Linked DNA regions of Homo sapiens. The protein of the gene in region 1 interacts with the protein of each later gene in a pairwise test. Each region holds a gene or a part of one and is shown in the gene's direction. Other genes may lie near its edges. The genes, in order: SGTB, TMEM123, RAI2, PDIA6, ADAT2, NAXD and PRR4.

Region 1 (4,324 bases):
TGGAGGGAATTTTGCTCCCGTGAGCCATAGTACAGTGAATAAATTAAGTGTAATCTGGATTAGAACTGAATACCAAGACAGACAGACGTTTGACGATGTTTGTGATGTCCTGATGTTCTTTAATCATATATCTGATATTCTTATATTCTATTCCCTTCAGGCTGGCCCTCACTGCCTTGAATAAATTTGAAGAAGCAGTTACAAGTTATCAAAAGGCATTAGATCTTGACCCTGAAAATGATTCCTATAAGTCAAATCTGAAAATAGCAGAACAGAAGTTAAGAGAGGTATCCAGTCCTGTAAGTTGTTAATGCCAAATGAGTGAAGTATTTTCTGTCATTCACAATTTATTGTAATTGTAGATACTGGACTGATTCTCAGATATAATTGTTTTACAGACAGGAACTGGACTGAGCTTTGACATGGCTAGCTTGATAAATAATCCAGCCTTCATTAGTATGGTGAGTATACTTTCTTTTCTGCCTCTACTGGCTATGTTTTCCATAGACTATGTAGCTATGCAATTTTTTTTAGAAACAAGTGAGTTTTTGTGGTGGTGGTTGTAGTGGAGTATTGATATAAGGCTATAGCAGGGTTCTGTTTTTTTATTTCCAACTTTTATTTCAAGTGCAGGGGTAAATGTGCAGGATGTGCAGGTTTGTTACATAGGTAAAACGTCTGCCATGGTAGTTTGCTGCACAGATCCTCCCATTACCCAGGTATTAAGCCCAGCATCTATTAGCTGTTCTTCGTGATCCTTCCTCTCCTCCCATCCTCTGCCCTCCAACAGGCCCCAGTGTGTGTTGTTCCCCTACATGTGTCATTGTGTTCTCATCATTTGGCTCCCACTTGTAAGTGAGAACATGTGTTATTTGGTTTTCTTTTCCTGTGTTAGTTTGTTAAGTAAAATGGTAAAATGGCCTCCAGCTCCATCCATGTCCCTGCGAGGGACATAATCTTATTTCTTGTTTTGGCTGCATAGCATTCCATGGTGTATATGTACCGCATTTTCTTTATCCAGTCTATCATTGATAGGCATTTGCATTGATTCCATGTCTTTGCTATTGTGAATAGTGCTGCAGTGAACATACGTACGAATGTGTATTTACAGTAGAAAGATTTCTATTCCTTCGGGTATATACCCAGTAATGGGATTGCTGGGTCGAATGGTATTTCTGCTTCTAGGTCTTTGAGGAATCACCACACTGTCTTCCACAATGGTTGAACTAATTTACATTTCCACCAACAGTGTTAAAAGCATTCCTTTTTCTCCACAACTTCGCCAGCATCTGTTGGTTTTTGTTTTTTTTGTTGTTGTTGTTGTTTGTTTGTTTTTTGAGACAGAGTTTCACTCTTGTCACCCAGTCTGGAGTGCAATGGTGTGATCTTGGCTCACTGCAACCTCCACCTCCTGGGTTCAAGCGAATCTCCTGCCTCAGCCTCCTGAGTAGCTGGGATTATAGGCACCCACAACCATGCCTGGCTAATTATTGTATTGTCAGTAGAGATGGGGTTTCACCATGCTGACCAGGCTAGTCAAATGACCTCTGGTGATCCGCCTGCCTCAGCCTCCCAAAGTGCTGGGATTACGGGCATGAGCCACCACACCTGGCCTGTTTTTGAGTTTTTAATTATAGTTGTTCTGACTTGTGTGAGATGGTATCTCATTGTGGTTTTGATTTGCATTTCTCTAATGATCAATGATGTTGAGCTGTTTTTTCATATGTTTGTTGGCCACATATATGTCTTCTTTTGAGAATTGTCTGTTCATTTCCTTTGCCCACTTTATAATGGGGTTGTTTTTTTCTTGTAAATTTGTTTAAGTTCTTATAGATGTAGGATATTAGACCTTTGTCAGATAGATAGATTGCAAAAATGTTCTCCCATTCTGTAGGTTGTCTGTTTACTCTGTTGATTGTTTCTTTTGGTGTGGAAAAGAAACTCTTTAGTTTAATTAGATCCCATTTGTCAATTTTTTCTTTTGTTGCAATTGCTTTTGGCATCTTCATCATGAAATCTTTGCCTGTGTCTATGTCCTGAATGATATTGCCTCGGTTTATAGAGTTCTTATAGTTTTGAGTTGCACATTTAAGTCTTTAATCCATCTTGAGTTGATTTTTGTATATATATGGTATAACGAAGGGGTCCAGTTTCAATTTTCTCCATATGGCTAGCCAATTCTCTCAGCAACACTTATTAAATAGGGAATCCTTTCCCCATTGCTTTTGCCAGGTTTGTCAAAGATCAGATGGTTGTGAGTGTGCAGTCTTATTTCTGGGTTCTCTGTTCTGTTCCACTGGTCTATGTGTCTGTTCTTGTACCAGTACCATGCAGTTTTGGTTATTGTAGCCCTGTAGTACAGTTTGAAATTGGGTAGCATGATGCCTCAGCTTTGTTCTTTTTGTTTAGGATTGCCTTGGATGTTTGGGCTCTTTTTTGGTTCCATATGAATTTTAAAATAGTTTTTTCTAATTCTGTGAAGAATGTCAATGGTAGTTTAATGGGAATAGCATTGAATCTATAAATTGCTTTAGGCAATATGGCCATTTTCACGATTTTGATTCTTCTATCCATGAGCATGGAGTGTTTTTCCACTTGTTTCTGTTCTCTCTTATTTCCTTGAGCAGTGGTTTGTAGTTCTCCTTGAAGAGTTCCTTCACTTTGCCTGTTAGCTGTATTTCTAGATATTTTATTCTTTTTATGGCAATTGTGAATGCGAGTTCATTTGTGATTTGACTTTCGACTTGCCTGTTGTTGGTATGTAGGAATGCTAGCAATTTTTGCACATTGATTTTGTATCCTGAGACTGTGCTGAAGTTGCTTATCAGCTTAATAAACTTCTCGACTGAGACAATAGGGTTTTCTAGATATAGGATCCTGTCATCTGCATATAGGGATAATTTGACTTCCTCTCTTCCTATTTGAATATGCTTTATTTCTTTATTGTGCTTCATTTCCCTGGCCAAAACTTCCAATACTATTAATTTGTTGAATAGGAGTGATGAGAGAGGGTATTTTGTCTTGTGCTGGTTTTCAAGGGGAACACTTCCAGCTTTTGCCCATTCAGTATGATATTGGCTGTAGGTTTGTCATATATGGCTTTTATTATTTTGAGGTATGTTCCTTCAATATCTAGTTTATTAAGAGTTTCTTATATGAAAGGATGTTGAATTTTCTTGAAGGCCTCTTCAGCATCTATTGAGATAATCATGGGGTTTTTGTCTTTAGTTCTGTTTATGAGATGAATCACATTTATTGATTTGCATATGTAGAAACAGCCTTGCATCTTGGGGATGAAGCCTCCGTGATTGTGATGGGTAAGCTTTTTGATGTGCTGCTTGGATTCAGTTTGCCAGTATTTTGCTGAGGATTTTTGTATCAATGTTCATCAAGGATATTGGCCTGAAGTTTTCTTTTTTGTTATTGTATCTCTGCCAGGTTTTGGTATCAGGATGATGTTGGCCTCATAGAATGAATTAGGGAGGAGATCCTCCTTTTCAATTTTTTAGAATAGTTTCTGTAGGAACGGTACCAGCTCTTCTTTGTACCTCTGGTAGAATTCAGCTGTGAATTCGTCTGGTCCTGGGCTTTTTTTTTTTTTTTTGGTTGGTAGGCTATTTATTAGTGCCTCAATTTCAGAACTCATTATTGGTTTATTCAGGGATTCAATTTCTTCCTGGTTCAGTCTTGGGAGGATGTATGTGTCCAGGAATTTATCAAGTTCTTCTAGAAATTCATTAGTAAAATTTCTAGTTTATGCGCATAGGACTGTTTATACTATTCTTTGATGGTTGTTTGTATTTCTGTGGGGTCAGTGGTAATATCATTTTTGATTGTGTTTGTTTGAATCTTCTCTCTTTTTTCTTCATTAGTATAGCTAGCGGTCTATTTTATTAATTTTATCAAAAAACTAGCTCCTGTATTCATTTTTTTTTTTTTTGAAGGGTTTTCTGTGTCTCTATCTCCTTCAGTTCAGCTCTGATCTTGGTTATTTCTTGTCTTCTGCTAGCTTCGGGGTTTGTTTGCTCTTGTTTCTCTAGTTCTTTTATTTGTGATATTAGGTTGTCAACTGGAGATCTTTCTAGCTTTTTGATTTGGGCATTTAGTGCTATAAATTTCTTTCTTAACAAGAATGAAATTTTAGCTGTGTCTGAGATTCTGGTATGTTGTATCTTTGTTCTCATTCAAAGAAGTTCATTCTTCTCATTCAAGAAGTTCTGCCTTAATTTTATTATTTACCCAAAAGTCATTCAGGAGCAGGTTGTTCAATTTCCATGTAGTTGTGTGGTTTTGAGTGAATTGAGTGCCATGTGGTGATGAGAAG
Region 2 (5,031 bases), on another chromosome or scaffold:
GTGATCTCGGCTCACTGTAACCTCCACCTCCCAGGTTCAAGCGATTCCTGTGCCTCAGCCTCCCAGCTACTCGGGAGCCTCCCGAGTAGCTGGGATTATAGGCACGTCCCACCACGCCCAGATAATTGTATTTTTAGTAGAGGCGGGGTTTCACCATGTTGGTCAGGCTGGTCTTCAACTCCTGACCTCAAACGATCTACCCTTCTCAGCCTCCCAAAGTGCTGGGATTACAGGCATGAGCCACTATGCCCACCCAAGTCCCACATCTTATTATCATCACCTTGAGGATTAGGTTTCAACACATGAATGTGGTGGGGATATAAACATCCAGACCTCTTATTCCACCCCAGATTCCCAGGCTATAAGTACACTGAGCCTTAAAGGAAGTATTAGCTGTGGGTTGGTGAAGAGAATTCCAGAAGGAAAGAACAACGTATGCAAATGCCAGGAACCAGAAAGCACCCTTCTCCATGGGCAACAGAACCAAGGCTGGAAAGACAGGTTGGGCCTAGATTGGGAAATGCTTGGATAATGGGGTAGTCACCAGAACGGTTTATTCCTAAACCAGATTCCCCAGTTAAATAGAATAACCAAAATCGAAATGTGCAATGCTTGCTTTTTGTCCATGATAAGCTGCAGGGGAAACATTTGCAGGTTGGCTGACTGAATCCACAGATGGAAGTCTCTGTAAATTTAGGACAGATTGTCTCAGTTAATCTCTAGGACCAGTCAGACCTCTGTAATGATGGATTTGCCTGACATGAGAAAGTTCTACCTCTCATAACACAGTTTTCAAAAGTTAACTGCAATGTGGCCTTTATGTGATGAAATCTGGCTCAGGTGCCAAAGATCTGCAACATTAAGACCTTTGCAGGTGGGGATTCACTGTGATTTTAGGTTCCTTGGATCCTTCAGTCTTCTACTTCAGCTGAGGGTTCCCACCCAAGCCAGGACTCAGCCTTTGTTATTCTCATGCATTAGCCACAGGTAGCTATGTCACTTCAGAGTTCTGAGCACGATGAAAATGCAGACTTTACAAGCACTTCAAGTCAAGACAAGTGATTAGCATTGGCTCCAAGGGTTTAAAAGGAACTCAGCCAAAAACTGTTCAAAACTGGCCATTTCATCTGAACTGGGACAGCAGGGCACAAGGAGAGAAAAGGCTGGTTGGATTAATGCAGCCCCCGCTTTCCATGGCTCTACTGTATTTCACTGAGAGTTGCTACCAACTCCTGCGCGCGCCCCCACCCGCCCACTCCACTAATCTCGTGTCTTAATCAGAGATACAGGGAACCCGTGGAGAAGATGAAGTACAACTGGGATAAGAAGATCGTAGGTGTTTTACGTTTGAATTTAAGCAACAAATCTGTCGAGCTGTTTTTCTCCACTTCCCCCTTAGGCTGGGTCACGCGAGGGGAAAGCTCCGACCGCCCAGGACTCCTTAGAGTGAATCCCATCCCCTCAAGTTCCTCTCCAGAATCTCCCCCTCCTCCCGCCTTTGCCCTGCAACTCCTCCCTCTCACTCTGAGTCGCACGCACCCCTGTCCCCTCCCTGCCCGCAAAACTACTCTTCAAAGGCTTCCTTCCGGGCACCGCGAAGCCAGCGTGCTCAGCATTCAGGGAGGCAGCGGCGCTCGCCTTCATCCAGGACAACAAAACTGCCATTTCCGAAGAGAAAGGAAACGGCTCGCGGTTTCTGGGGTTCCCAAGCGCGCGCCTGCGAGGGAGGCCGCGAGCCGAGTCGCCACGCCCAGAACCCCGAGCCCGCCCCCGCGCCACCCAGCCCGGCCCCGCCGCCCCGGCTGCGCACGCGACGCCCCCTCCAGGCCCCGCTCCTGCGCCCTATTTGGTCATTCGGGGGGCAAGCGGCGGGAGGGGAAACGTGCGCGGCCGAAGGGGAAGCGGAGCCGGCGCCGGCTGCGCAGAGGAGCCGCTCTCGCCGCCGCCACCTCGGCTGGGAGCCCACGAGGCTGCCGCATCCTGCCCTCGGAACAATGGGACTCGGCGCGCGAGGTGCTTGGGCCGCGCTGCTCCTGGGGACGCTGCAGGTGCTAGCGCTGCTGGGGGCCGCCCATGAAAGCGCAGCCATGGCGGGTAAGTGGCTGCGGGGGTCGTCAGCCCCGTTCGTGGGAGGCAGCGCGCTGCCGAGGCTTGGGTTCCCAAGTTGGGCTCTGGTACAGAAAGTTCCGCGTGTGTCTGGCCGAACGCTCGGGGCGGACCCAGAGGTGACCGGGCGGGGTGGGGGAAACTGAGGTTTGGACCAGTCACCCGCTGGCCCCGGGGCCGCCTGCTGAGGAAATTGCCTGGTGCTTCCCCTCTCGCTTTTTGGATGCGGCGGTCGCAGGCCGGGACGGGTGCGCATAACCTGTTGAGTTACCGCAAGTTGGTTTTTACAGCCTTTCCCTGAAGTTAATGTTTGCCGAGGTTAGAGTTTCTAAGGCTTCCGTTTGTAAACAAGATTAGCTGAGTTGAAAAATATGTCTACCTAGGCCCGCGGAAACGTCTCCCAGTTAGTCGGGGAGCTTTTCAAGCGTCCCCCAGGCATTTCAGCGTCTAATATTATGCAGTATTATCCAGATGAATTACAATCTTTAGGTCCCCCTGACGCTCGAAGTTAGACTTCGGGGCTCTTGGAGCTAGTTGGGAGCTTTTGGGGAGCGCGCCCCGCCCTCGCGGTAGTTGAGGCGGCCGCCCCCATGGCGGGGCGCTCTCCACCCCTCGTGTGCCATAAACACCCGGCCGAGGCGCGCGGCAGCTGCGCAGCGTTAAGGGCACAGCTGCACGGTCGCCGGTGGCCCTTGTCGTCGCTAGTAAGGTCGTAACAGGATGATGTTGACTTTGCTTTTCTGTGTAGGGCGGAATTTGTTTCGTTTTAGGCCCTTGGCCCTTTGGAGACTTCAAACAGCCCTTTTTGGATGAAACCAGGAAGTTGGGATTTGTTGTGTAAATACTGTTTTCCTTTGTCAACTGTTAGAGAAGTCAGGTCCCTAGGTAATGGTCAGTAAACTAGGATAAGTTAAGTAACCCAAGGTTTTCATGGTTTTAAGTTCTATCCATCCACTGTATATGTTAGCCTTAGGTTCGTTTTATCCAGCAAAAGAAAAAGGCAGTTTGTAAATCTGGAAGGTTCAGGCACAACACTTGCTTTTTCTGGAATAACCTGGGTGAATTAACAATTTTTCTTTGTTTTGCTGAAGTTTTTTTGTTTGCTTAATTGTGCGTGTGACAAACTGGCTTCGCAGACCTAATTTTGAGATCATTTAAGAAAAAAAGTGGTAAAATCATGTCCATCGTGTATCTTGGTCCTAATTTTATACCAATTATCTCATGAGGTGAGGTCTCCATTTTTAAAAATTTGTTGCTGTGTTTGTGAAGATAAGCCTTACTGTTTCAATGAATTACCGATTAGAGAAACTGTGAGTGACCATGCTTTTCTTTCTTTTGCCCTGATAACACAGATTTTTTTTGCCCTATTTTAGCACTGTTTGTTCTGTTTATTACTTAATGTCTTACTAGAGGTTAGTCCCATTTGCAAAACTTGAAATGCTCTACAGTAGGCGAGCCCTGAATTCATAAACTAGTATAACCAACCAGAGGTGGAATCTGTTTCTACAGACTATATAATGTCACCTTGCAACTAGACTAAAAGGTATACAATAGAAGATTTCTCAAAAAAGCTAGTAACTGTTAATCGTAGTCTTCATGTATAGTGTAATCTGTATACAATGTCATTACGAAGTATAGTGATTTTTAGCCATCATACTAAAACTCTTAATGGCTGATTTTTACTGGGTACATATTCTGTGCATCCCACGCTATGCTAATTTAGGTCCATAAATCATCCCATTGAATCCTCACAGTATCGTCCCCATTTTATAGATAAGTAAGCTAATTTATGGCAAGTAAAACAATTAATACATGTTTGGTTTCAGATCAAAATCCAAATTTTCAATTAACCATTTCACCACTAAGCCGCGTTAGATGATGATGGCTCTTGAAGTAGATAATACTTTTATTCCACAGTATTACCATTGCCTAGAATATTGTGGGAGAAGATAAAAACATTATTGAAATTCTGCTTTTAAAATATTCTTCACAGTCAGCTGCATAGCTTTATAAATATCAGTTGAAGGAGGAGGGAGACTATGAGCAAGTTTGCAAATCAGCAAACAGGATTTATTGTAGTATTCCAATGAATGACATTAACATTAACAGGATGGGAGGGGCGGCTGTTAGTCATTACTCTTAGTGGCAAGTGACAGAAACCCACCTTGAACAACTGTGGAAAGAAGGGACTTTTTTGACTTGTAACTGAAAAGTGCAAGGATTGAGGTGGCTTGAAAATGGCTGTATTCAAGTGTTCAAATAAGTCGCCAAGAAATTAAGAAATCATCGCGTTAAGAGCGACAATAGCAGGGAAACAAAAACAGGCTGTTGTGTTAGCCCAGCCAAAAGATGATGGTGAGTGGCAATGGAGATAAAAGGGTGGATTCTAGATCTATGGGGGGTTGGGACTAATCACTTGCTGATGGATTGGAGGGTGGGATGAGGAAGAGAGAAGAATCAAAGGATGACCTCTTGGTTTTGGGGTTGAGCAGCTGGTAATGCAACAATTGGGAAGGTTGGGGGAGGAGCAGGTTTATAGTAGAAAATCAGTAGTTCCATTTTGGCACTCATATCTGCAGGCTTAGGAATCAAACTATCTGGTCCAATTCCAGTCTCTGCCACTTTGTATCTGGGCGGCCTTCTCTGGGCCTCAGTTCTTGTCTGCAAAACAATACTCCTAAGAATTGTTGAGAGGGTTAGATGAGCTAATGCACATAACCCTGGCTTGTGGTAAGCACCTAATAATGTTGGCAATTGTTTGCTATCTGCTGCTAAATACATCTACGTAGTCTGTTGACCTTGATCTTTTTCAAGTTAATCTTACACTGTATCCTTTTGTGATAAATAGATGATAGTCCCATCAAGAAGAAGAAATTCTCACAAAGAAGAAATTTGCCCAAGAAGTAAAGATAAATCCTTCAAAGT
Region 3 (4,324 bases), on another chromosome or scaffold:
TTATTTAGGGCCAGGGCCAGCCTTAAAGGAGAGAAAATAAAAAAGAGAATGCACACTGTCATTTCCTGACAGCTTGATGAGAACAAGAGCAAGGACATAAATAAAATTTCTGCGAGGGAGACAGAATAAATGCAAGGAAGGTCAATTTCACACAACCATAGCACAGCAGATGAAGAAACCTGGCCAAAGGAGAGTTCAGGGAGGTAGAAGAAGGATTTTGGCTGGCACTATGGTATCATCACATCACATCATTTCTGGGTCCTTCCCTAGGCACTGGTCATGGCATAAATAGACGGAAAGGGATGGGATAATGAACTTGGGACTGCAGTGATTTACAGGTCAGGCGCCTGTGGCTCTGGCTCCTGAGGGGGCTGCCCTCACAGGGGACCCTTGGCTGACCCCCTTGGGCTCCTCAGAAGGAGTTGGTTTTGTTTCACATGGCAGAAGCAGACTGTTTACTGGAGCACAGGAAGAATCCGACATTCTGGCGAAAAATAATTCATTAACAGCCAGGGTATTACCAGTTCCCTGGAAAAGCTCCTCCAGCTGCACTGTAGCAACTGTTCTTTTTCAGCAGCAGAATCGGGCCGTGCTGGCAGCCAAGACTGGGTGTGTTTGGGCGTTTTTATTGTTGTTGTTATTTTTGCCTTTGTGTGTATGGCCACTTTTCCCTTATAATTCAGAGAAAGAAATGGAGGCCTGGAAGGGTTGAAATGGTGTAGCTGTCAGCCATTCTTTCCTTCGTGCTTTAAGCCTGGAAGCTCCAGGCTGACTGTATGAACATAGGTTTTTCCTGATCAAAGCCCATCCCCAAAGTGGGGGCACTGCAGAACCACATAGAATGTTCTAGGATGAAAGGAATTTTAGGGAACTGAAACACCTGTTCTTAAGATTCTCTGAAAGCAATTGGCTGAAGAATCCCTCCCCACCCCCGTATGCACAACCAGGCAGAAAGTCCTATCTTGGCCGTGTGGAATTCTTTTGCTTACTATTAATTGGCACAATGGGGCCAAAGTATGTGATTCATCATCCTAGTTTTGAGGGCATTTGGAAAGCCAGGCAAGCATAACCAAGAGAATGGGCTGCATGTTTTGCTCACTAAGGAATGATTGAATCTACAGTAAATACAAGGAAAGATTCAGGAAGCTTTTTGTGCTCTGGAAAAATATGTCTTTTTAAAAAAATAAGGTTTTTGTCTGCCTGTTTGTTTTTTAATGCCTCATGCTCAGAAGTGTGTGCCCAGCTAGCAAAAAACGGGAAAGAATAGCATTTCCTTGTTTTAGTTTTTTTAAAACTCTAATTGCAGTTTAGGTAAGATACAGTGTATTGATTTTGGTTTTGTATGGAACATAACTAGATAATCATTTTATTTTATGAGATATTAATTTCCACCCATTTAGACTGATGAAATATGCATTTAAAATATCCCATACCTACCCCCACCATCATCACAATATTTCTTTAATGTTCCTAGATTCAGATGGAGAACCTATTTCATTTATATGGAAAAGGAGTAAATATGTTAGTCAACATATATGTAAACCTGCCTTAGATTTTGAAAAAAATGGGATCCTTTCCCTTTTTTTAAAAAAAAAATGAATGTTAAAGGCCAAGCATATTTGGCTTTATCTGGAGCATGGTTTCTTCACCTTGGCCCTGTTGACATTTTAGACCAGAGAATTGTTTGTTGCAGGGGACTGTCCCATGCACCTTAAGATGTTCAGCAGTATCCCTGGCCTCCACCCACTAGATACCGTTAACACCACATCCTCCTACCCTAGACCTTGCCAAATGTCCCCTCTGGGACAAAATTAGCCCTGTTGAAGACCACTTGTCTAGACCAAAATTTAATAAGTACTTTGTGTTTTTTTGGAAAATTCCATTTGACATAATAAAAGACACAATTTTCCCCCTCTGACTTTTATAAATACAATTCATGGGCATGATTAATTAACGGTTGGAAGTGGGTCATGTGCGTGATTTAATTCTAAGGTTGGTGGAAGGGTCTATAAGATTGTATAAGCATAGAGACTTTTTCAAGGCAGGCAATTTTATAAGTCATAGGTGATTGGGGGGCACATTGTAAGAACTAGTGGCTTCTCTGGTTTTTCATAAAGAGAACAGGTTTATTCCTCCCTAATTTCTTTTTCATATGCACCTGATTCCAGGCATGACTTCAAAGTCAGCAGGCATCTTCCCCCACCCCCAGCCCCTCCCCACTGTCATTTCTCCGGTAGCATCTTAAGCCCGAGCCAATTGATTTAGCCATTTAGTGTACTTGTGAGAGCTCTGCTCGTAATATTGTAATGGACTCATTTCAGATTGTAGCAGCCCTTTACCCACCACTAAATTCCATGTTTTCCAGTACTATTGAGAGAGAAAGTCAACAGTACTTTCTCGGTAGATGGATCATTTTTCGTAATGATTGAAATTCAGGTAGCCCCCATCACCCCTGGCAATTTTGTTTCCTTTTACACACATTTGTTTCCTTGAAGCAATTCTCCTTCAGGCAGCTAGCACCTGGTAATGCCTACAGGCAGCAACAGCAGATGAAATGTTGCCACCAGGACAAGCCCTCAGCCATATTCTTTCTGGTAGTCCCTTGAAAGGCTAGAAAGGAGGGTCATGCCTTACACAAGGAAGGTGTCATGCGGGCAAACCATGCCCTGCCCATACATGGAAATGGAATGGGTGTTTGGGGGGCAGGGAGAGGGCAGAGAAGTGGATCACTCATTATACAGGGAAAGTGTTCCCCAGTTAGCCCTCCCCTGCCAGCCTCTGAGAGTGATATGGGAGCAGGGGATGCTGGTGAAGGATAGGGGCAGTTGTTCAGTGCAGAAGTCAACATAGGCCACTTCATTTTGCAGCCATCCAAGGTAGGCTGACCTTTTCCAAAGAGTGTCATGTGTAGGATTCCCTTGCATACTAGCCAGTGAGGAAAAATGGAAAGGTGAGCATTGAGGGATTTGGCAAGCCAGCGACACTTCATTGGTGAGTTCCAGCATCTCTTGAAGAGTAGTTGAAGTCTTCCTTGTCGCCATGAAGAGAGAGGCAACAAGCTGGTAGGGATCCACAGTGTGCTGGGCTCAGGCGGATAAATAATTGATTTGTAGCACGTGACACTTGGACATTCTAAGTTGCCAGTCCGTTGCAGGCCAGGATTCAGGTGATGGTTGCAACACTGGGAGAGGAAATAGGATCATAAATCTGGGCGTTGGAGGCCAGTTTCGTGGTGCAGAGGCCACTGGGGCCACCGCTGTGTGTGCAGAAGCAAACAGACAGATCTGAGTGGTATGTTGTTCCTCAAAATAATGGCAATGGAAATGGCTGTGAAAAACATTTAGGAACTTGTCATAAAAATGCAAACAGTCTTCCTTCTATAGGGAAAAGCTAAATAAACCCTATTGCAGCTGTATTAAGTAGAAACAGATTTGAAAATCGGGTGTTTTTTTTGTTTTGTTTTGTTTCTGAGACACTTATTTATAGCAGGTTGGGCAGAGGCTGCCACTATCTTTCGAGACTCCGGAAGAGTGTTTTCCAGATGGTCCTTGCTGTTTTTCTCTTTATTAAGCTTAGCTAAACAGTGCTGTGCTTGGAAAGGGTCATAGAAACCAGTGTTACTTTTTTTCAGATTACAATGGTCATTGATTGGCTAGCAATCAATGGATGGGAATGGATTGAGCCTGTGCCGATGAATTTCCTATTGCATTTTATAAACAAGAAAAATGTCAAGGAAAGCACAGAATAGGGATACTCTTTCGACTATGCACATCAAAGCTTTGAAAACCATACAGAGTTACATTTCCTATTAATTTCCATTTAAATTTTGTTCTAAAATAATGCTCCCCTCTTTGTGAAAGCTCTACAATGTTACCGTTTCCTTTCCAACATCTAAACAATGTCCAGATCCATTTCAGATTGAGCAATTAGCTCTGGATGCAATTTCCTTTTATGAAAAAAAGAATCACTAGCCCTCTAGACCAAATATAAAATTATTGAATGTGAAAATATCAATATGGGGCCATTTGTTCTAAGATCCTTTTTGGTCTATCACTGGCATTTTAAGAAGGTTAGAAAAGGCCAATTCTGCCCTGCCCTTCCATGTTCGACACAGCCACACCAGAAACCCCAAGCTTTGTTTGTGCTCATAGAGGCTGAGCAGCTGGATTTGAGGTCATCAGGGCTGAAGCTTACAGCCAAAACTGCAAGGGGAAACATCTTAGAATGTCCCATAAGCCAGTGGTCCCCACAGACCAGGTTTGCAGACCACTGCCTGTATCGGACAGGATTTCTGCCCCCTCACAGTGAAGTGGAAGAAAAGTGA
Region 4 (3,771 bases), on another chromosome or scaffold:
GTCCCTTGTCTTTTGGGTCCCACAGATTATCAACGAGGACATTGCCAAGAGGACGTGTGAGGAGCACCAGCTCTGTGTTGTGGCTGTGCTGCCCCATATCCTTGATACTGGTAAGACAGACGGAAATGATTTCCCTTAGCTGTTCTATGCTAGATGCTCTGAGAATACTTTCTAAATGGATTAATTTTATGGACTCCTTTATCTTTACCTTTAAAAAACTTTGTCTATTTAAATCAGGAGCTGCAGGCAGAAATTCTTATCTGGAAGTTCTTCTGAAGTTGGCAGACAAATACAAAAAGAAAATGTGGGGGTAAGTTACTGAGCTTACTGTCTGAGTGTCATCTGAACAGCTGATTATAGGCTTTCTTGAGAGTGGTTCCCCCGTGTTTTTGTAAGCTGTGTTCTATGTTTGCTCTGCTATATGTTTTTTTTTTTTTTCCCTCCTGCCTCAGCCTCCCAAGTAGCTGGGATTATAGGCGCCCGCCACCACACCCAGCTAATTTTTGTATTTTTAGTAGGGTCAGGGTTTCACCATGTTGTCTAGGCTGGTCTCAAAACTCCTGACCTCAAGTGATCCACCTGCCTCCACCTCCCAAAGTCCTGGGATTACAGGTGTAAGCCACCGCACCCGGCCTGCTCTGCTATATGTTTTTATTCAGGATGTGAAAACTTTATCATGGGAGGAAAAGAAGGAATGAAGGGCTGTCAGCACAGCATGCATTTTTCTCATAGGAATCATGTTTTACATGGTGATTGGAGTGCCAGGTTAGCAGGCAGACACATAAGGAGTAGTGCACCTGAATTCTACTGTGAACTTGAAGGCTGGGTGAGAAAGGGGAAATAGAATTGTTTCCTTCTCCTCTTCTGAGTTAAGGACTGGATCTAGGCACATTTTCAAAACAGTGTATCTCTTTCCTATTTTATCCTTTTTTTTTTTTTTTGAGACAGAGTCTCACTCTCTTGCCCAGGGTGGAGTGCAGTGGCACAATCTCGGCTTACTGCAACCTCCGCCTCCCGGGTTCAAAAGATCCTCCTGCCTTAGCCTCCTGCGTAGCTGGGACTACAGGCGCACGCCACCATGCCCGGCTAATTTTTGTGATTTTAGTAGAGATGGGGTTTGCACCATATTGGTCAGGCTGGTCTCGAACTCCTGACCTCAGGTGATCCACCTATCTTGGCCTCCCAAAGTGCTGGGATCACAGGCGTGAGCCACCGTGCCCAGCCTCCTTCCTATTTATCTTTTTGCTTCTTGTCCTCAGTATCCATTGCTTTCCCCAGGTACCTAGCGCCCCCTGTTGTCCCTCTCTCGATGACCTTGCTCCTCCTCCATTAGTCCAGCAAATGTTTATTAGATGCCTACAGAACGCGAGAACATGCTTAATAACCCAAATGATATTGGTGGGATTTCAGGTAAAAAGGGAAAATCCATATAGAAACTCATCTTTTGTTTTTATTTGTCATTCTACGAAATATCTGAAGCGTGATCTTTTGTTCTCTAAGATCTTCTAGTTAGATCGTAAGCAATTTAAAAGACATATTTGCCCTAAAAACCAGTCTGGTTTTCTAGGTGGCTGTGGACAGAAGCTGGAGCCCAGTCTGAACTTGAGACCGCGTTGGGGATTGGAGGGTTTGGGTACCCCGCCATGGCCGCCATCAATGCACGCAAGATGAAATTTGCTCTGCTAAAAGGCTCCTTCAGTGAGCAAGGCATCAACGAGTTTCTCAGGTAATTTGTTTTCTTAGGTTGTTTGTTGTTTTGTCTGTTTGTTTGGTTCTGTTGTAGGTTTATATTTGGAACTAGGTATATATAAGCCAGGTAATAAATGGAATTTAAAATGCAAACTAATTCCAGAGAATTGAATGTTTATACATTAGAGTTTTTAAATTGTCTCCCTGTTCGTTCTTTTTTCCATGGAATACTCTGCTTGCGGGATGAGGAGAAAGCATTGCTACCCTCGGGCCGCCCTGTGTGCCATTCTGTGCATCTGGCCCTGGGCTCTTTCTCATTCTCATAAAGGTCTCATATGGGCTAGAGGCAGCCCTGTCTGTCCATCCTCACCCTCATATGCATTGTAATCTTGACCTTGGGGAAATGTGGTTTCCATTTCTGGGCACTTGGCTTTGGAATGTAGTTATTTATTTGAAAATGGGCGTACTTAAGTTACTCCAACAATGTGCAAACAACATGATAGGTTCTAAAACCAATATACAGAGCTGTCTACTCTGCTCTGCTATTCAGCTCACCTAATCATCTTTTAGGCAATACAGGGCATTGACCTAAAGAGGTTTTATTTCCCATTCTTGCTTTCTTCCGCGTTCATTTCTTAGCTGCTGTATAAGAGATGTTCAGCACACAAAAGGTAGTTGAGAGGCTTGTGTTGAATAATGAATAGGAAGAACAGTACATGAAAGCCTGCAGTGCTCTTGCTGCCAGTCTTCCTACTTGACACAGAAGTTTGTGTGCTGTGTGGAGACGTGTGTGTGTGCTGTGTGGAGAGTAGGGGCTCCAAAGTCAGGTGCCTCAGTCACAGCTCTGCCTTGAGTAGTGAAGTGGGAGGCATGGAGGAAGCCCTGTGAGATCAGCTGCTTCAGCCTCTGCCGGCGGGGGGCAGACTGTGGCTCCTTCCCTCCCAGCTCTCTCTCATTGTAGTTGGTTAATATGGTTAATGGGTGTTTTCTTTCCCCCCCACCCCCGAGACAGAGTCTTGCTGTGTCGTCCGGGCTGGCACGATCTCGGCTCACTGCAACCTCCACCTCCCGGGTTCAAGTGATTCTCCTGCCTCAGCCTCCTGAGTAGCTGGGATTACAGGCGCCTGCCACCACGCCCAGCTAATTTTTGTATTTTTAGTAGAGATGGGTTTTCACCAGGTTGGCCAGGCGGGTCTCAAACCCCTGACCTCAAGTGATCCACCCACCTCAGCCTCCCAAAATGCTGGGATTACAGGTGTGAGCCACCACGCCTGGCCAAGGGGGTGTTTTCATTAAGTTTGTGGGGCTGGGTGCGGTGGCTCACGCCTGTAATTCCAACACTTTGGGAGTCTGAGGCAGGCGGATCACTTGAGGCCAGGAGTTCGAGACCAGGCTGGCCACCACGGTGAGACCTTATGTCTACTAAAAATACAAAAAATAGGCCAGGTGTGGTGTTGTAGGCCTGCAGTCCTAGCTACTAGGGAGGCTGAGGCACACCCAGGAGGTGGACGTTGCAGTGAGCTGAGATCACACCACTGCACTCCAGCCTGGGCAAAAGAGTGTGACTTGGTCTCAAAGAAAAAGAAGTTTGTGGACTGCTTAAGTTTGTGATTGTCATAGAGTAGTATTTATTAAATCATGAAGTCAGAATGTGAATATATCTCCTGTAATTTTTTTTTCTAATAATAGGTTTGCTTATTCTAGCCCATTGGTGCCATAGATTGTTAGTCTAGCTCTATTATTCTATGAGTTGTTTGGTGAACTCTAAATATTTGTGCCCACAGTATTTCTGGCTCTGGTTTCCCAACAGCCAGATTACACCAGGTCTGGTATGTTTCAAGTACTGATGTTTATGCACATACGCACCCCGCTCTCTGCCAGCGCACTGGAACCAGTCGCCTCACTTCTGATATGCTCCCTCTGTACAGGTTCACAGCAGTCTTAGAAAGCTCGCAGGCAGCCCATGTTCTAGATCAACTTTGATAATTATTTATGTATTTAATTTGTATTTCAGCAAATGCTCTGCTATTTTTAAAAGCTTACTGATAGCAACTGACTTTATCTGATGCAGGGGGCTTAGTT
Region 5 (4,324 bases), on another chromosome or scaffold:
CTCTCTCTCTCCTTCCGTTATCACTTCGCCTCTTGCCTTCTGTGGGTGCCTTCAGGACCCACCTGAATTTGGGATAATCTCTCCATCTCAAGATCCTCAACAAATATTTTTTGCATGAATAAATGATTTGTCTCTTCTGTGTACCTTGATCTCTGTGTAATTCTACACTTACCTTAAATAAAATTCTTAGTATAATAATTGCCATAGCTACACTGGTAGTTAGCATTTCCATTCTCCTTAACTGTCCGTCTTCTTCCTGGCTTTCTTCTCTATAGTAGCCTATGGTGCATTTGTCTATATTAACCAAACCTCGGGACTCTTCAAGCCTTTTGAACTTGCATAAACTGGACATGCTTTAACCACTGTCACAGAACTGGGACACAACCGGCCTGTGGATAGTTCATAAAATAGTCCTGAATGCAGTCTTACTGCATCAGATACTGTCTTCTCACATCTCTCCATGCCCCATCTCTGACCCACCAACCAGATGGAGAAAAGAGAGGCCCAGTTTGCTCCTGCTGTGGGCGTCTCCTTTTTCCTCTAATGGCCAAATGAAGAATAAGTGTCCGTTGAACATGGTGGGAATAACTGAGGAAATCCTGTATGCCTTATAATAGGAAGTTGTCACTAGTTAAATAAAGTAGAACTGGGAGTAAGAGACTGGTGCAGGAGACAGAAGACACTGTTTTAACAATGCCTTCAACTTTGCACTTTATATGCCCTATGATGTGTGTAAGTACCTGCACTTAAGTGAGAATCAAGTCTTCCAAAGTCTCTTCAGGGCTGCCACAGTAAGGAATACCTTGCCTTTCTGGAAACAGCTGTACAGCAGTTATATTCTTTTGACTGCATTGAGATGGGAATGAATGTACACTAGTCCAAGGGTTGTACTCTTCCCTTATTCTGACTCTCAGAGGCAGTATCAGGTTATACTGAGGCATAACCTGCCTGCTTAAGCTCTCCGCCTGAAGGTAGAGTTAATTTTCCTAGGGCCCAGAGCTGCTATCATGGGACAAGAAGAAAAACGAATGGCCTGTGATAAAGGGAACTTTGAGAATATAATAATTGGTTTGCCATTCCTGGGATGGTAGTCATGGAAGTGTTCCTAAACTTGTTTTTCTCATTGATTTTTTTCAGTTGAGGTATACTTTATATACAGTGAGATGCACAGGTTGTAAATGTATCCTTCAATCTGTTTTGAATAATGCAAACATCTCTGTAATCCATGTCTTTATCAAGATCCAGAAAGTTTTCACCACCTCAGAAAATTTTTTTGTGTACCTCCCCAATCAATCTGCACATCCTCCTCCATGAAGCAACCACTGTTCCAGTTTCTGTCATTGTAGTTTAGTTTTATCTATTCTGGTACTTTGTGCAAAAGGAATCATATAGTATGTGTGCTTTTGTGTGTGACTTCCTTTACTTAGCATGTCTATGAGGCTCATCCATGTTGTCACAGTATCAGTAGTTCCTTTTTATTGCCGACTAGTATTCCATTATATGAATAGGACACAGTTTGTTTATCCATTTTCTTGTTGATGGCCACCTGTGCAGTTTCAGGTTTTGGCTATTAACATTCTTTTTCAAGGTTTTGGTTCTTTTTCAAACTTTCTTTCTTCTTCTTTTTTTTTTTTTTTTTGTAGACACATATTCCCTTCTTTTAAATACTTAGGAGTGGAATTTTGTTATAGACTGTGTGTGTGTTTACTTTTTAAAGAAATTTCCAAAACGTTTTTCATAATGATTGTGCCATTTTACATAGAGTACTTCTAAACTCTTATTGTCTCACATAGAGTAGAAATTGTGGGACAGGGTGACATCCAGTCTGGTTACCTTTAGCTATTGGGACTCTAGAGGATAATTTCTATAATTTTTAGAGAAGCAAAGGAATTTCAGTGAGGAAAGGATTGTAATAAAGGATCTATAAGTGTTATTTAGTCCCCTACCTTTTTGCAAATATGTATTCTATCTCTGAAAAGACACATAGACCCTGGCACTTCAAGAACAGTGGTCAGTCACAGTCTCCTTTGATCACGTCTATTTCCAATGAGAAGACATCAGGGGCTCTGGACCTATCAAGGGGATTTTTTTTGAGTCTCCCTTAACATGGACACAACACAGAACACGGGCACTAAATACCGTAATGGAACTATATTCCAGAAAAGGGAAGGCTGCACTTCTTTGTTTCAGTCTTTGTACATGTGTATCTTGTTCATGCTGCATCTCTTTCTCTCCTATACTCTCTTCAAGTATGGAGTATTACGTCTTACATTTTCCACTTTGTGTTTCAGGCCAAAGAAGCCCTCGAAAATACTGAAGTTCCTGTTGGCTGTCTTATGGTCTACAACAATGAAGTTGTAGGGAAGGGGAGAAATGAAGTTAACCAAACCAAAAATGTATGTGAGTTGAGCAGTATAATTGCAAACATACAGTAGTGATGGGTGGACTGGAGAGAATTTACCACAGTTGGTGTGAAGGTGAGACTGAATATAGTCCCGTAGCTGCCAGTGGTGGGTAGCTTTTCTTAACGTCTCTCTTTTTCAGTATCATTTTCTTCCTGATTTTGAAAGTGATACATGTTGATTTTTTTTATTGTGGAAAATTCAGAACAATTTAATGAAGCCATAAAATCTTAGTGAATAATTTTCTGTTTCATAGAGTTTTACTCTAATGCTTGAGTGAAACCCAAGAGGGGATTTTATTTCATCAGAATGTCAGCATGGAAGAAACAAGTCTGTCTCTACTTTAAGCCAATCTAATATATGAAATTTTCATTTTATAAAATAGGTCAATTTAACTCATAATACATTCCTTTTTTAGTACCTTTAAATAATATTTTCATCCTAGTAAGTTAAAAAAGTATCCTCAATGTATAGCTTTGGAGGGAGGTATGAGGATTATATAAAGGAAGCTATTCCTTTATCAGATAATTCAACAAAATAGGGTCTTCAACACCAGCTGCCTCTGTAGCTACATGTAGCATGTACATTTTAATAGCTTGTATGACTTTTATTGTGGTTAGGTTGGGAAGTTCATGGTTCAAGGCAATGCTTCTTAAACATGGTATCACAATAGTGTGTCATGATAAGTATACTTGGGAAGTATAAGTAAACTACCAAATTTTATGATTACAAAAATTCCTAGGTGGACTCAAAGATCACTTATACCTGTAATGCCATTCACACAGACTTTTATCTTGTCATATGATTTTGGGAGCCAGAGAATAAGCTGGTGTTGATACCAGGGCTGTGGGAACTAGTTCATCTATCAATCACATCTATTGAAAAGAAAACTGATATTTAGCAAAACACATGTAAAATAGGAATCCAGATTCACAAATCATTTATTTACTTATTTATTTTTAGCCATAAAATAGAACAGGATTATATTTTAATACGTAACTTCTGTACAACCAAAAAAATAAAACACCACAGTAAAATAAACTGGAATAAACATGGTATTTCATTTGCAATGCTTGACAAAATGTTCACATCCTTAATCAGAAATGAGTTCTTAGAAATCAGTAACAGAGAGACTAATATTACAAGGGAAGTGAAAATAAAAGGAACAGAGGAAAATGAAATAACAACCAATAAGGCTACATGAAGATGATCTAACTTAACTTTAACAGAAGAAAAAAGCAATTTCTTTGTAACATTAGATTATCAGTGATTAAAAATACTGATATCTAATGTTTGAACAGTTTTAGGGAATGGGAAACGTTCAAACACTGGGAAAGCTTACATTGATTATAGGAAATTTACTCAAAATGTAGATTTTGCATATACTTCGCCCTAGCAGTTCCAATCAATAGGAACTGTTCCGACAAAGTAGTTGGACAATTCAGATTTATATATAACCATGTTCACTGCATAGAAAATCTGTAGTTAATATGTCAGCCCCCCAAAAAAACTTTTTTATCAATTTGCTTATGAAAAATAGTAGATCGAAGTGTAGAATTAGAAAGAAAAAAGACACTTAAATAAAAATATAGTATTTCACAAAATTCTTTGTCCTTTGAATTCTTGAAAAAGACAACTTTTTAATGAATCAGTTTTAAATTTACCCTGTAATAAGTGAGAAGCATGAATATATGTAAGTCATACTTTTAATTTTTATTTATTTATTTATTTTTTTTACTATGGAAATGCTTTAATAGAGGTGAACACACAGCAAGAACAGCAAGTGCCCACACAGACATGACTATCACAGAACACATTGTGGGCAAATGAAGAATTCATACCACCCCCGCCCTTAACCCAGTAACAGAAGGCTCTACGCCCCCATTTCCTCAGTCCACTCCTCAGACTCTCCCTCCTCCTCA
Region 6 (4,324 bases), on another chromosome or scaffold:
GGTATTGTGCTCTGCGCCCTGGCCCTTTGCTAAGCCACCTGGCTGGGTGTAATCCGAGCTAGTACGTTTCTCATGCACGTCACCAGGGCTGAGTAATGAGCGCTGGACGCCTGTGTCTGGCGGGTGGGCAGCGATGCCGGAGCGATCCCTGAGTCGGCCTCTTGTGCTCCTTCATCAGGGCGCAGACTTGTCCCACGTGTTCTGTGCCAGTGCGGCCGCACCTGTGATTAAGGCCTACAGCCCGGAGCTGATCGTCCACCCAGTTCTGTGAGTCGCTCTGCGCCGGCTTCTCGTAGGTTCTCTTTCCCTCCTGCATCATTTGGGGTTTTGGCACTGACACCGAAAGCGTCCTGATGGATTTTCCATCCTCAGAGTTTCTCAGCAGGTGCTGTAGAGGAAGTAGGGAAATGAAGGAGCCCGTTCTTCTGGGGTCAGAATAAGACAGAGACGGCGGGGTGGAGAGGTGGGTGGGGGAGCTTGGGCCTGTTGGAAATGGCCGGGGCCCAGCTCCAGAGGCAGGGAGGCCCTGTGGGCTGTGTGTGACAGGTTTGCAGAAGGTGGAAACGAAGGGCCTCTGAGCAATAACAAGACCCTTCCTGCACTCGGCACATATGTCTGGTGCCAGGCCCTAGCCTGTGTTCCATGGGTCAGCGTGGAACTGGGCAGGCAAAAACCTGCCCCCGTGGGGCTCCCCCAGACCGCCTATGCTATAGAGCTTGCTGTGTGGAGGTGTTCTCTCTGCCGTCCAGGATTGTGGCCACTGAGGGCTTGAAATGTGGCTGGGAGGTGCGGGAGCAGAGCGTTTGCTCTTGTTTACTTTTCATTGTGTGTGTTTGCACCGACTGGATTGGGCTGTGCTGCTCTGGAGACAAGGGAGAGGAGGATGTCAGGTGGTGAAGGAACCGTAGAGAGCGGCAGCAGGGAGGGGGCTGTGAGAGTGGGCAGAGGGGCAGTTGGGGCGGCAGCACAGTGTGATGACGCCTGGGTCGAGCCCGGCCTCTCCACACCAGAGAGGAGCCGGCGCGGAGCTCCAGGTGCGGTGCTGTGATGTGTCGGGTGACCAAGAGGTGCAGGGCTGGGCCCCACAGGGTGTGGGGCTGCTGTCAGGGCTGTGGCTCTGGCCCTGAGTAAGCAGGGCAGGGCCAGTGTGGGTCATAAAGGCTCCTACGCGGCTGTGGGGCTGGGCCGGAGGCTGTGGTAAGGACCTGTGGGAGGGAAGGGTGCAGTCAGATGGTGAGAGGGGCCGGATTCTGGGTATGTTTGGAAAGTTTGGGGGTGGAATTTGCCGACAGATTGGATTGGAAAAGGCAAGGGGCACAGACTCCACCAAGGGTTTTGGTCTGAGCGAGTGGTCACTCCATGTGGTGGAAACGGGCTTGGGTGGGATGAAGATGAGGCGTTGGGTGTAGGGCGCAGTTTGGCTGCCAGTTAGACATCCAAGGGACGTGGCTAGAGGGCATTGGACAGTGGGGACACGGGCTTGGGAGTCATGCACATGTGGACGGTGCTTAAAGCTGGAAGACGAGGGAGTAAGAGGCGGAGGGGGGCTGGGGTTGGGGGCAGGGGGGACTTGGCACTCAGATGCTGGGAGCACGGGCTGGGGAGGAGGCAGCAGGGGCCTCCAGGAGTCAGTGAAGCCGCTGTTTCCAGACAGCTCCAGAAGGGCCTGTGTGTGCGACTCTGGGTCAGTTGGAGATGAGGCCTGAGAACAGTTGGTGCATCTCACAGTGCGGGGTGACCCTGACAAGGGAGCTTGTCGGGGAGGAAAGGGGACAGAAGCCTTAACAGTGGGCTCTAGGAGAGGTCACACCGAACAGGAAGGAGTTCTGAAAAAGCAAACCCCTGCCCTGTTCTGAATGAGAAACTGCAGCAGGGTCAGTGCGTTGTGTGGGGCCTGGTCTATAAGCACACAAAGTAGGCTTTACAGCCACACATGTATGTGATGGAAACAAACGGGCTAACTTTAGAGGGCAAAGATGATTTTGAAAATAGCCATCGTTCTTTTTCTAACTTGTCGTAACTGTTGAAAGCTAGGCATGTAAATCTGGGCATTAAAAGAGAGATCAGGGAGAGGCAATGGCCACATGCAGTGTGGGGCCTGGTTTGGGTCCTGACATGGGAAGAGGACATCAAGAGGAAATGGGAAATTTGGAAAATGCTGTGGTTTAATGAATAGTATTAACCAATGTGAACTTGGTCATGCTGATCCGGAATGTGGGTGTGTGAGGCGTTAACCTCGGGGAGGCTAGGCGAAGGGTACATGGGAGCCTTCTGTACTGATTAAATAATAAATCTAAATTACAGAAATTATTTAAAAGTCATTACTATTTATAAGTTATTTTTTCAAAATAAAATGTAAACAAATACATGACAGTAAGTAAATGAGGAATTGTGGGTAACCATCCTGGCCTTCCTTTCCTTCTTTAGTGACAGCCCCAATGCTGTTCATGAGGTGGAGAAGTGGCTGCCCCGGCTGCATGCTCTTGTCGTAGGACCTGGCTTGGGTAGAGATGATGCGCTTCTCAGAAATGTCCAGGTAATGTGTATACTCACTCACTTCCCTCATGACAGGCTTAGCCTTAGGCGTGAAGTTGGAACAGAGGCATTTCTCTTGCATTTTGTGTAGTGTTCCGTGTGCCTCTTTGTGGCATGATTGAGATAAGATTTGAGGGACGGAGGAGAAACTGAGTGCAAAGGTGGGGAGGAACTGTGCTGAGATGTGCTTCTCTCCGGGCCCGACTGTTTTCTCATGGAGCAGCTGCAGGAGGTGTGTGTGTGGAGTTGCTCAGTTGTTTTATGTCTGATGTGAGGAGAGGGTGAGCAGGACTGAGGAGGTGACAGAGGTTTGGGGTCAGGCCTGGGTGTATCTCCCAGGCCACCCCCTTCTTGCTGGGGGATCCTGGGGTTCCCTCAGCCTCCTGGGCCGTTGTTCCCACACAGCCCTGGCGCCATGCTCTGCTGACATCAGGCTGTGAGGTGACACGGGCCTGCTTGTCCGTGCCCACATGCATATGCGCATGGACTCTCATTTATGCTGGTATTTCTTTCTTAAAGTTCATCTTATGCCCACCTAAATCCAAAAGATGAAAGTTATTCTGATCACTTTGTGCCTGCTGTAAATAAATACCACCTGGGATCAGGGGCGATAAAAAGATGGGGATGGCTGCCAGCTCTGTGTTCCCTGCGTCCTCTGACGCTCCCTGGGCTGGTGTGTCTCTGCTGGGGGTTGTGCTCCTGTGGGGCTGCCCTCTGAGACCCTTTCTCAAGTTCCGGGGGACCCCTGTTAGAGCTCCTGGGGGAAGACACAGTGTGCCAGATGGCTTGGTGCCACAGGGTGCTCACATGTGCAAGGCGTGGTGACTGCATGGGGATCAGAGGCCGGGCATTAGTGAGGGACTACGCTTGAAGCCCTTAGAAGGTGCCTGGCCATTTTGTGTTCCCCAGATCAGCAGTCACCCTGAAAATGCCAGCCATCTGCATGGCACTCTGTTGGGTGCTTAGTTAATGGAGGGGTCTCTGAGGCTGCGGGGCTTGAAGGCGGCGAGTGATGGAGCCAGCAGTGCAGGATGAGTCATCTGAGGGGCAGGCAGACGCAGGCTGACACTGCACAGACCAGGAAAAGCGGCGTGGAGTCAGCACGGGAGCCCGTCTTTGAGCTTTAAGGTCTTACCCGCTCACCGGGAAGGAGGAGGTGGCCATGTTTAGGAGCAGTAGAACCCTCTGTCATCCCCGGGGAGAGGCTCTCAATGGGGAGTCCCATCTGCAGGCTGCGGGTCTGCGGTGCACGGCTGCTGCTTCCTGTCCAGCTCTGCATCCTGGGGGTGCGGATGAATTAGAGGTGAACGAGCCAGAGTGCTCTGCTTCAGGTTATTTTCTTTGTGAATTTAAGTTCACAATTTAAAAACTGGTATCTTAAAAAACCACTGTACTGCGTGGAAGTGTGAAAGGTGGGAAGTGAGGGTGTGCGTCGCTGCCCCTGCAGCCCAGACTCTGGACCTTGCATTCTGGTTCCTGTACACTGTTGCCGTGGTCTTGAGAGCCCTCAGGTCATCTAGCGTGGGCTGCCGCCTCCTCGTCAGCTTCCAGCTCGTGTCTGGTGCGGAGCAGAGGCTTCCTACTTCGTCGACGTTCCTGAATGAGGTCATCATCTGGTGTAGGCCTGAAAACAACCCGATTAGGTAGATTCCTATTCATAGCCCCATTCTTCTGATGACAGATTGAGTCCTGGCAAGGATTCAAGACGCCCGTGGGATCTGGTAGCAAAGAAACTGCAGAGATGGTTTTTTAAAAACGACTTTATTTAGATGATTTACCTACCATACCC
Region 7 (4,785 bases), on another chromosome or scaffold:
TCACTTTGCCAAAGTAAAGTTATCCATAACAAACACCATTGATTAGAAAATCTTCCTGTAATATTACCTCCAACCCTTCAGAATTGCCAGACCAGACCTTCATCTGCACAGCACAGGATCCACTTATCCACAATGGTCAAGAGGCCTGTCTTTAAGATTTCCAGTCACATTCCCCCGACCCTGTCATACTTCCAACCAAGCTATCCTCAAATTATCACCAGCCCTGTACAAAAATGTAACAATAATACGAGACCTATACAATGCCTGTAATGAAAAGTGGCAGCTGGTGATACTGATTGATCTAGGGGTTCCATGAAAATATAAGCAGAAAACTACTAGATAGGACAGAAAAATCAGCAGGTGAAGATTAAGCTACCAACTCAGGACCCTACCAAACTTTTCAGAAACACAAAACCTTGGTGCCAAATTTTAAAAACAAAAAAGAAGAAAGCAAGCAAAGAGAAGTACAGAACCTTGTTTAGAAAATCAAATAAAGATTTCTCCCAGAACGCATGAAGAAAGCAGTAAGATATAAAACATAGACATAGGGAGGATTGATTCACAATATAACATATCAACAAGTAAGGTTCAGCACAAGAGTGAAGAAGAATGAGTATAAGAATATTGCAGAGAAAATAATCTTTGGTAAAGGCAATCTGAGAAGCAAATAGAATGGAAACTAATTAAAAAATAGAAAATCAATGTAATACTTGAGGCTTTCAACAGGCTATCATACTATCTAATTAGATTGTATTATTGTGTCCACTCAATAACCAGTGTGATTAAAATATTTGGTACAAGAAGTAAGACCTAAACTGAATCATATAGAACATTCTAGAAAAGAGAAAGATCATGGAAGAAGTCTTAGGGACATAAAATAGCATGGCTTGTTCAAGGAACTGTGTATTCACACTGTTCTGATGCAGAAATCTAATGGTGCTTTCTGTGGCCAATTTTGCCTTACTAACCTCCAGGGTATTAATAAAGATAGAATGTTTTAATACCTGTGTTCTACAACAATAAAGTATCTCTGGTTAATGCTAGATTAGGAGAATCTTAATCTCTTTGGGCCAGAGTAGCCTGAGGGTAAAACTTCTGTCATCCACGTGTGCCCAAGTGTGTGTTGTCCTCACACAACTCAACATTAAACAGAAATGATCTCTATATTATTATGAAATTAAGCTACATATCATCCATATAGGTATATATGCTATAAAAATGGAATTTATGCTACACTAATAGCTAGAGATATTAATCATTTTCACTTCTGGCTATAAGATCACTGCTGACAAACATATACAAACGTAAGCACGTGTGCACACAGACAACCAATGAAGGGGAAAGACTAACTGTCTAACCCAATTGAAAATCAAATGATGACCAAACTTCAATTGTAGTATTTGTGCTGATTGCTTGGATACTGTTTCTTCAGAAACTATGCTCAAGTCACAGTTTGTACCTAACCACATCCTACCACCACATCCTGCTGGGCTAAAATCCCAAAAAGTAATAAGAGACGCATTCAACTTTATGAGAGGAAAGCAAAACCTAATCTTTCAGGTGGTGAGGTCCACCCAGTATGGAGCTCAAAGGTGCCATTGTTCTGCTCATGTTTATAAAGGGAGCTGCCATGTTTCTCTCAACGCAGAGTTGGGAGCAACTCCAGAGCCTCCTTCAAGATGCTGCTGGTCCTGCTCTCAGTGGTCCTTCTGGCTCTGAGCTCAGCTCAGAGCACAGATAATGGTAAAAAAATTATTTTTTTAAAAAAGGAGATGGGGAGTGGGATGAGGGGCCATGACTCTTCTAGGGCCTCAGGGGTTCACCCTACACCACTGCAGCGGAAGAGCAGGAGGGGAGGAAGGAGGTTGAGAAGAAGGGTAGGGCTTTGGAGCTCTCATTCCAAGGATGACATCTGTTGTGCCCTCATTCCATGCCAAGGCCTTATACTTTATTTGATATACACTTGGAACCCAATAGAGAATTTCAATTAGAGGAATGACAAAGTAAGATTTGTATTTTTAGAAAGACCTGGCTGTGCTGTGAAGGATGCAGTGGAGAATGCAAGACTGATCCAGGGAAGTCCAGCTATGAAGATGCTACAGTAATCTCAGTGGACAGCGATGATGGTGTCCTTGCTGTACAGGGGATGCAGAATCAATGAAAGAGATAAACAAACATCAGAGTACTGTCAGACATAGAGGACTGGATAATACATTTGTGTCTTTCTACATAGTGGTATAGAAATATCAGGTCCCCAAATTCCCATTTTTCTTCCAATCACATTTAAAATTTCAATATGTTGCAGGCAGCATGTGTAAGATTATATCCAAATATTTACTCCTGGTTGCTCCTCTTGGGCAAGCTTGTGAATATGATCAAAATATTTAAAGAAGGAAGAAGGTAAAGATCTAAAATATGACATGAAAATACCCAGAGAAGTGTGCCTAAATTAGCATTAGGGTTTGAGGGATCCTAAGGATGACAAAAAGGGACTCTTCTATTGAATTCGTGGTTGATGCTCAGCGATAGTAACAATCCTGCCTCCCCTAACATCTTCCTCCCCTTCCAGCAGCTTCACAGAACATGGTTGATGAGGTAACTTAGGGGATGCACAGGGTGTGGCCAGAAGACCCCTTTCCCTATAGACCACTATGAGCCCTGAAAGATTTATGAGGTAATGTTCACTTCATCCTGTGCTTCTTTTCCTAGATGTGAACTATGAAGACTTTACTTTCACCATACCAGGTAAATCCCAATGATCCTCAATCCAATTCTTTTCTTTCTTTTTCCACTAGAATTTCTTTTTAGTTTCCTTCAGTGTCTTCTTCTCATCATTTTTTTGGGAGGAGGTGGTAAGAGGGGTCAGGCATTGATTAATATTAGTGCCCCTAAATATATAGGCAATTCTTACCCATCTTTGATTCTGGGGACCATGAGCCAGGCCACCAACTTGAATACAGAGATGCCTGGCTTTGAGGACAATAGGAGTGGGCAGGCTTTTTTCCCAGGCTGGAATGACTGCTGAGAGATGATGAACAAATGAGAAGTGTTCTCATTCTGACTCCTCCATCCTTAACTGCTTCTTTCTTCCCCCAGTGTTCCCCCGCACGGTTATGTGGCTTCAGGGAGTAACACAAAACAAAACAAAAAAATCACTGCATGAATGTCTTTTCTCTGTGTTGACCCACTCAGCTGTGTCACTACAGATGATAAATAGTTGCCACAGCTGTTTAGTGATCATGTGCAGGCTTTCACATTGTCTTTCTCTTCTGTCTCTTAGTATTTCTCTACTTGGTTCCAGGAGCCTGGGAAATCAGCTCTAGTTTCCACATAGGGCTTAGGTGCCCAGAGATGGAGTCACAGTTTGTAAGTCATTACAGCAACCAAAAAATAAAAATAAAAAATAACCAGTAACATAACTGAAAGCTATAATGCTTTTGCTTTTTTTTTTTTTTCTGTCCTTGGAGACATCCTCTGGCAACTCTAAGATATGCAAGAACCCCTCTTTTCATTTAAGGAAACATACTTGTCACAGGAGCAAATAAATGAGACTTTCCATATCACTCTTACATGGATTAAGTTGAGAGCTGCATAAAAAGAAAAAAAAAACAGTGGGCACAAAAGAAGTTGACAGTCAAGCAGCAGGTTTGGGGAGAACAGGGCTGTGTGGTAAGGTGAGAGAAGTATAAAGAGAGGAGAGTTTTTCTTCACTGAGCTCATGCATTCTTGTCCATTAATTACTCACACAGATGTAGAGGACTCAAGTCAGAGACCAGATCAGGGACCCCAGAGACCTCCTCCTGAAGGACTCCTACCTAGACCCCCTGGTGATAGTGGTAACCAAGATGATGGTCCTCAGCAGAGACCACCAAAACCAGGAGGCCATCACCGCCATCCTCCCCCACCTCCTTTTCAAAATCAGCAACGACCACCCCGACGAGGACACCGTCAACTCTCTCTACCCCGATTTCCTTCTGTCAGCCTGCAGGAAGCATCATCATTCTTCCAGAGGGACAGACCAGCAAGACATCCCCAGGAGCAACCACTCTGGTAATCTAGAATTCAGTGGCAGGTATGATTCCAGTTCATTCTCCATTAAATGCCCAAACTGCTACCATTCCCAAACTTTATCGTGTTCACAAATCAATTGGAAATATGTTGAAATTACATAATCCTGGACCCCATTTCTAAAGATTTGTATTCAGATATTCTTGGATAAGGTTGCAAGTCCTTGTATTTTTAACAAGTGGTTCAAAGAATTCTTATCTTTTGAAATACTGACCTCCCCAACTTTTTTCTTAAGATGACTTGTCTCATTAAAATGAGTTGGTAATGAGGAAGTGGGGTGTGCTCTCCCTTTGGTGCTCTGCCTCCTGTCTTTGAGTCTGCCTTCTCAAACCCAAGGACTCTCCATCTCAGGTTTCTCTCAGGTTTCCGCCAGAGGACTCTTTGCTCAGTCCTGCCTCACACTAGCCTCTCAGGTCCAGTGTCCCTGCTAAATGATACTTGAACTTGATGCTCTTATATCTTATTTAATTTTTAAAATACTTATTTTGAAATTAGTACATGCTCAAGGAAAAAAAAATCTAACTGAACAGAATGGTATGAAGCTAAATCTTAAAGTGACGCCTTATCCTACTTACCCACACCCTTCACCAAAAGTCACCACCCTTAATTTTTTGAACATCCTCCTGGAAATATTTATATGTATATAAGCATACGTCATTATTTTTCCCACAAATGACATATTATTTTATATGCAGATCTGTATTTGCTTATTTCAAA

The links.
Region 2: the proteins of SGTB (region 1) and TMEM123 interact in binary tests that used the Homo sapiens proteins (3 or more experiments, as listed by UniProt).
Region 3: the proteins of SGTB (region 1) and RAI2 interact in binary tests that used the Homo sapiens proteins (3 or more experiments, as listed by UniProt).
Region 4: the proteins of SGTB (region 1) and PDIA6 interact in binary tests that used the Homo sapiens proteins (3 or more experiments, as listed by UniProt).
Region 5: the proteins of SGTB (region 1) and ADAT2 interact in binary tests that used the Homo sapiens proteins (3 or more experiments, as listed by UniProt).
Region 6: the proteins of SGTB (region 1) and NAXD interact in binary tests that used the Homo sapiens proteins (3 or more experiments, as listed by UniProt).
Region 7: the proteins of SGTB (region 1) and PRR4 interact in binary tests that used the Homo sapiens proteins (3 or more experiments, as listed by UniProt).

Annotation. Positions count from the first base shown.
Region 1 is NC_000005.10:65,676,631-65,680,954, reverse strand, and holds part of SGTB (small glutamine-rich tetratricopeptide repeat-containing protein beta), read left to right. Parts: intron 1-160; coding exon 161-299; intron 300-398; coding exon 399-461; intron 462-4,324. UniProt on the Homo sapiens protein: Co-chaperone that binds directly to HSC70 and HSP70 and regulates their ATPase activity.
Region 2 is NC_000011.10:102,449,587-102,454,617, reverse strand, and holds the start of TMEM123 (porimin precursor), read left to right. Parts: upstream 1-1,852; 5' UTR 1,853-1,994; coding exon 1,995-2,094; intron 2,095-5,031. UniProt on the Homo sapiens protein: Implicated in oncotic cell death, characterized by cell swelling, organelle swelling, vacuolization and increased membrane permeability.
Region 3 is NC_000023.11:17,850,939-17,855,262, reverse strand, and holds part of RAI2 (retinoic acid-induced protein 2), read left to right. Parts: intron 1-4,324.
Region 4 is NC_000002.12:10,785,236-10,789,006, reverse strand, and holds part of PDIA6 (protein disulfide-isomerase A6 isoform d precursor), read left to right. Parts: intron 1-25; coding exon 26-110; intron 111-237; coding exon 238-310; intron 311-1,567; coding exon 1,568-1,726; intron 1,727-3,771. UniProt on the Homo sapiens protein: May function as a chaperone that inhibits aggregation of misfolded proteins. Negatively regulates the unfolded protein response (UPR) through binding to UPR sensors such as ERN1, which in turn inactivates ERN1 signaling.
Region 5 is NC_000006.12:143,436,662-143,440,985, reverse strand, and holds part of ADAT2 (tRNA-specific adenosine deaminase 2), read left to right. Parts: intron 1-2,291; coding exon 2,292-2,396; coding exon of another isoform or gene 2,397-2,400; intron 2,401-4,324. UniProt on the Homo sapiens protein: Probably participates in deamination of adenosine-34 to inosine in many tRNAs.
Region 6 is NC_000013.11:110,625,012-110,629,335, forward strand, and holds part of NAXD (ATP-dependent (S)-NAD(P)H-hydrate dehydratase), read left to right. Parts: intron 1-178; coding exon 179-267; intron 268-2,427; coding exon 2,428-2,536; intron 2,537-4,324. UniProt on the Homo sapiens protein: Catalyzes the dehydration of the S-form of NAD(P)HX at the expense of ATP, which is converted to ADP.
Region 7 is NC_000012.12:10,846,332-10,851,116, reverse strand, and holds the start of PRR4 (proline-rich protein 4 isoform 2 precursor), read left to right. Parts: upstream 1-1,641; 5' UTR 1,642-1,679; coding exon 1,680-1,743; intron 1,744-2,709; coding exon 2,710-2,745; intron 2,746-3,749; coding exon 3,750-4,054; coding exon of another isoform or gene 4,055-4,072; intron 4,073-4,785.